2 separate regions of the Homo sapiens genome follow, and region 2 is linked to region 1. Evidence: fine-mapped expression QTL. A gene starts in region 1. The other region holds a variant in brackets. All regions are shown on one strand. Distances are from middle to middle. Region 1 holds the start of SOCS2 (suppressor of cytokine signaling 2). Region 2 overlaps CRADD (CARD and death domain containing adaptor protein).

The links.
Region 2: its variant is fine-mapped to the expression of SOCS2 in whole blood (TOPMed, PIP above 0.99).

The regions. Positions count from the first base shown.
Region 1 is chr12:93,571,293-93,574,127 of GRCh38, forward strand. It overlaps SOCS2 (suppressor of cytokine signaling 2), which reads left to right and starts at 1,383. Exons shown (of 2, transcript NM_001270471.2): 1 at 1,383-1,744. The coding sequence starts at 1,606. SOCS2-AS1 (SOCS2 antisense RNA 1) reads right to left here and starts at 106. Exons shown (of 4, transcript NR_038263.1): 1 at 1-106. RefSeq lists silencers at 1-99, 460-509, 520-829 and an enhancer at 2,047-2,186.
Region 2 is chr12:93,741,099-93,744,004 of GRCh38, forward strand. The region is part of intron 2 of CRADD (CARD and death domain containing adaptor protein); the gene reads left to right. Among named protein-coding and RNA genes, the nearest start is that of CRADD-AS1, 4.7 kb to the left of the region's middle. RefSeq lists enhancers at 220-1,176, 1,177-2,133 and silencers at 1,220-1,389, 1,420-1,509. The variant G/C (reference allele first, on the strand shown) is at 1,135.

The DNA.
Region 1 (2,835 bases):
GCGCCGGGGAGCGGCGGACGGCCTGGGCTTCCGCAGCTCGGAGCGCCGGGGAAGAGAGAGTCCGAACCGCGGCTCTGCCCCGCGGCCTAGCGTTGCTGCCTGCTTTCTCCAGCCCCTTCTCGGCGTCTGGAAGTGTCTGGAGTTTCTTTTTTTTATTTCCCCTAAACTGCCATTCAAATTAATAATCCTCCTAATAACCTGATCTCCCGCTCCTCCCCACCGGCCTGCCTCCCGCCCTCGCTCCTTCCTCCCTCCCTCCCTCTCTCCTTCCCACCTCCAGGGTCGCAGCCGGAGGGAAACCCGGCAGCAGTCCGAGAGTGGAGGTGTCCCAGCCCGTAGGGGGCGTCGCCGCGCGGTGGGGGATGGGGTCGAGGCAATGATCCTCGAGGCTTTTGTGTGCCCTCTGCGCACGGAACTCCGACCGCCGCCTCCGAGCGCGGGGCTGGTTGCATCCCCGGGCATCTCGTTCCCAAATTAAACGTTAACGGGGGAAACAAGGGCAGACGCCCCTCCTCTCCCGGGCCCCTCCCACCTCCCCTTTTCCCCCCACCCCCCCGCCCCATGTCCGCTGAGGAGGCTGCCTGGTGCGGAGGCGGCGGCGGCGGCCGCGGCCGAGGTCGAGGTAAGAGCGCGGCGTTGGTGGTTTGCATTTTCCGCAGCGCTCGCGACCGCCCGCTCGGCCCCGGCCTCGCCTCGGAGCCCCGCGAGGGCTGCGCGCTCGGGCCGATTCCTCGACAGCGCCCGCGGCGGCGAGAACCACCGCAGCCATCCTGGTCCGGGAGCGACCGCCGCGGCACCCCCAACCCCGCCAGAGCGGGCACCAGGAAGCGGGGGGAGGGGAGCGAGGAGCCTCCCGGGCGGAGATGCGGCAGCTCCCGCACCTCCGCACCCCGGGTTGGTGCCTCGGGGCCCCGCAGCGCTTTAGGGCGGAGAACCAAGTTTGTGTGGGTGCTTCTTCCTGGGGGCCCTCGGGCTGCGCCAGGTGTGAGACCGGAATGCCAATTTGGGGAATCTCTCCTGTTCTTTCCTTTTTAATTTTTTCTACTTGTCCTTGACAAGGGCCTATTCCCACTGGATCTGCAGGTGACTATTTGCTCTTCCTAGGTCGCCAGTCTTTGATTTCAGCTAGTGACCCTGGGCGGGAAGACACCCTGTTCACCCTCCTCCTGACCTCCGCCCCCCACCTCTTCAGCCAACTTTATCTTGGATCTCTGCTCTCTTTATCTTTTCTCTAGAGCTGGGCCAGGGCGCTAACTGGAAGCTTGGGGTTAAATGGTGCAGGAACGTAGAGGCGGAGGAGTCCCTGGGATTTTCCACGTCTATTTCCCCACCCCCACCCCAGCCGCAGGGGTCCAGTTTGGACTGACCCAACCTCCCGCTTTCTCTTTGTAGGCGATCAGTGGGTGACCGCGGCTGCGAGGGACTTTGTCATCCGTCCTCCAGGATCTGGGGAGAAAGAGCCCCATCCCTTCTCTCTCTGCCACCATTTCGGACACCCCGCAGGGACTCGTTTTGGGATTCGCACTGACTTCAAGGAAGGACGCGAACCCTTCTCTGACCCCAGCTCGGGCGGCCACCTGTCTTTGCCGCGGTGACCCTTCTCTCATGACCCTGCGGTGCCTTGAGCCCTCCGGGAATGGCGGGGAAGGGACGCGGAGCCAGTGGGGGACCGCGGGGTCGGCGGAGGAGCCATCCCCGCAGGCGGCGCGTCTGGCGAAGGCCCTGCGGGAGCTCGGTCAGACAGGTAGGGAGCCGATCGGCCGCGACGCGTGCGGGAGGGAGCGCCTCCCCAAGGAAGCAGCTAGGAAGCGGGGTCGAGGTGGGAAGCAAAGAATAAGATGGAAATACGTCCCTTGCTTCCAAGGGACCGCGGAGAGCACGCTCGCAGGGTCCTGGGTCCTTGGGAATGCGTAAGGAAAGTGGTTCTCCAGGGACTCAGGCCTGGCGGAGCGCAGAGCGCGGGAAGAGCTTCTTGGAAATAGCTTCTTAGCACGCTGGAAGATTTACTGTTTTCCGCAGCTGCTCAGGGTTAGGCTCCCGGGCTCGAACCCCGGCCGGGGAAAGCGTCGGGCGCCTCCCTTTGCACGGGGTGCAATCAGCAAGTCGGTGCCGCGGGCCCCGCAGGCCCAGCAGCATCTGGCTCCCGGGCGGAGCTGCGGCTGCAGCCCAGGATCTTGGCGGCCAAGTTCAGGGACTGACACTGCCGCGAGGGCGGCTGCCCGGGCGTCGAGAGTAGGCTGCGAAGCCCCCGCCGAGCGCGGCTTCCATGGTCGGCGCGCCCAGGGTACTGCCGCTTTCAAGTACAGTCAGGCAATTCGCGCGGCACGCTGTCTCTAGGCATCTGAAAAAAGAAAAAAGAAAAAAAGTAAAGTATCTGGCAAATCATTCTGGCTTTCCAAATCCGTATCCTAAAAGCTTACAGTTGTGGCACAGTTGAAATTTTGGTAGCAACAGGGGGAGGGAGAGGGAAAAGTTCTCTCGCTTGCGATTCCGGTCTTTCCGTGTGGGCCACGGGCTTTCCCTCCCGGGGAGGCACCGGCAGATTGCAAGTATCCCGGTAATTGTGGGGGTGGGGGGAGCACAAATGTTCAGACTTCTTAAATACGGACGGTCTCTGAGCCTTCTTAGAAAGCAGAGTGGGCCGGGGAGATGGTGCAGGCAGATGAAATCAAGAATGCAGGGGAGATGGATGGTTGTGATTGGGTTTGGATTAGGGCAAAGTTCAAAAGAGTTTAGGGAAGATTGTAAACTTGAAGTAGTAATTATCACTTGGGAATTCCCATTTCTTAGTGACTGGTAAGGTAGTCATAAAGCAGCGAACAGAAGCTATTGTAC
Region 2 (2,906 bases), 170 kb after region 1:
ATGATAGATTTTGTGTATCTCTTGTGTGTCATTAGAACAGAAATATTTAGGGCTGCTAACTCCCGGAGTTGTGTACTTACCCTTATTACAGATGCAATGATTTTGTCTGACTGCATTGCTTTAAGATGAGTTTTATTGCTTTCATGCTTAGGCAAGGATATTTAATTTTATTTGTGTTTAGAGTATCTTGTTGTAATATACTTCTCCCCCATCTTGTGCTCCTAAATTTGGGATAAGCATAGAATCCTTTTAAGAATGTAGGTTATTTTCCAGTTTACTAGAAAGCATGACACATATAAATTAGCGACTAAGGATTATAGCGTCCTTTCCTAAAGGTTATCATGAAAAAAAGTTAAAATGTCAAAGAAGATCCTACTCCAGTAAAAACAATTTACTCTGTAAAATCCTGATACCTCATAGGAAGCTTTGGATCTTGTTCTCAGCTACCAAAATTCTTTAAATATGAAAGTTAACATGACAGGAAAGTGGAATACACTCTGTGCTGAAGACCCACTGTTCAAGGTGTGTGGTTATTAATCTGGGTTTGAATTTACAAATTATATGGTCTGATTAATTTGTAGATAGGGGTCGGTGGAGGTTAGACGATGGGCTTTAGAACAAAGAGGCTGATAAAATACTACTCACAAGCCTTTCTGCTTGTTTGTGACTCTCTGGAAATGCCATTAGATAGTTCTCATAGCTATGGTCAAAATAAGTAGGCTTAGAAATAAAAGACATTTTCTCCCCTGTAAAAGGAGGCGGCTGGCCTGTGCTCTTTCTAGGCTCTTCCCAGAGACAGCAACCTCGGCTTCTGAACCCTTAGTGCTCATTCTATGCTCCACCGCGTCTCCTCTACACGCCATGATCTTTGTTATCTGATTTGCTAGCCATTGTTATGGAAAGTTCTCGACTGTAATGCAAAAAGCTCAGCCTTGGGTCCTTGCTAATGTCAGCAACCCAAAGGCGCCCCTCAAACCACCTCGAAAAGAAAAATCCTTTAAAAGATGTCAAACTCTCCTTTCATGTTAGCCCAAAATGAAGTTCCCGAGCAGCATCTGGCAGAGCAGGGTAATTCAATCTATTTTAATGCAAAGATTTTCCAAGAAGGCAGGAAGCCGTCAAGGAGAAGGCTTT[G/C]AGGCATCTGCTGTTTTGTTTCCAGATCCCTTGTGTTAATTTAATGTTTCTAGGGAACCCGGCTCTTTCTTTTTTCTCGGAATCCCTGCTCTAGGAACTGGTGAGTGCGGGGGCGCTGTGGGAGCTGCAGATAAGCCAGCGCTTGGCCGGGCACCCGCGGGCCGCGCAGCGGGGCAGGGAGGCGCGCGGCCCCAGCCGCCCTAGGGCGCCGGCTGCCTCTGCGGGCCCCGGCTGCCCAGCCCAGCGCGGGGAGGCGGCGCCGACTGCCGGGGGGCGCCTGCAAGACCTGTTTATTTGCATTTGTCCAATTTGGCTCAAGTGAAAGGTAAATACGGAGCGATCAGCTTGTCCTCACTCCAGCAAAACCAGGGAAACTCAGCTCCATCTCCAGGAAACAAACCCAACCCAAACCTGAGTGAAACGTAAATCTTGCATAAACAAACACGTTCTTTTGCTTCTGGGAAGGAACACCGGAGAAATGGGCATTCCTTCCGACTGCCCGCCTCCCACTGTCGGTAAAAATGAGCCGTCACAGGTTGCCGGCAATTTCTTGTTGTGTCCCGAGCCATTCCGCGGATCTTGTTTTGAAGGGGCGAGTCAGGTGTTTGTGCGGCTCCAGATCCTGAACAGGTTATGCGCTGGGTCCTTCCTTATCAGGAGGGGGGTCAGGCTGCCCTCCCATTCTCATCTTCCGCCCCAGACCAGAGGCTACACCAAAGTTCACTTTTGAAAAGAAATCCTGCAGAATTAAAAATAAATGTCTGCCCTTTAAAATAGTTTCGTTTTAGTATTATGCATATTTCTGTTTAGGAACTTGTAATGCTAATAATTTATGTTGCTATGACAATTGTCCTGCATACCTAATATTAAATTTAATGAATTAATGTGGCGTATAGAGTAATAGTAACTTAACTAGTACTCCGATAATGCCAGTATTCCCTGTGTTACTAAGTTAATGGAATCAGAATTTTGGAGTTACAATATAGAGGTTTTTTAGGCCAATTTTTCTATGGGATTCTAGGGATCTTTTTATAACATTTCTGCTTTTCGAAGCAGTCTATACCATTGCTGGAGAGCCGTAATTACTAGGATGCTATTTCTTTTTGTTTGTTTGTTTGAGACAGGGTCTTGCTCTGTCATCCAGGCCGGAGTGCAGTGGGTCCAACTCAGTTCACTGCAACCACCACCTCCTAGGCTTAAGCGATCCTCCCACTTCAGCCTCCCCAGCACCTGGGACCACAGGCCCTCGTCACCGTCTGGTTAAGTTTTGTATTTTTTAGTAAAGATTTGGTTTCGCCATGTTGCCCAGGCTGGTCTCGAATAGAACATTATTCCTTATAGTAAGCTGAATTCCCTGTGTAATTATTCTTACTGTCCCTTCAATAATAAAAGCCTAAAATTATTCTTACTCATATATTTTAGTGAGGGTGGTGCATGCTTGAAGACCGTGATGAGTGTTCTCTTCTTATATTCAGGGCAACTATGATCACATATTGGGCTCCAGATCCTTGCTTTATGCATCTTCTTTTGAATTGTTTAGAAACAATGGCAAAATTTCCAATTTCAAGGTAGTGCTTGAAATTATGCAATAAAATGTTATGTTAGCAACATTTTTTTTTATTTTAAAAATTCCTTTGATTATTTCACACTTATATCCTGTTCTCTGTTATGGTAGTTTTGTTTTCTATTTTATTTTTAGTTTCTATGTAATTTATTGTGCTTTAGCTGAAATCACTAAATAAAGATAAATGAGTTTAACAGACTCTTATGTG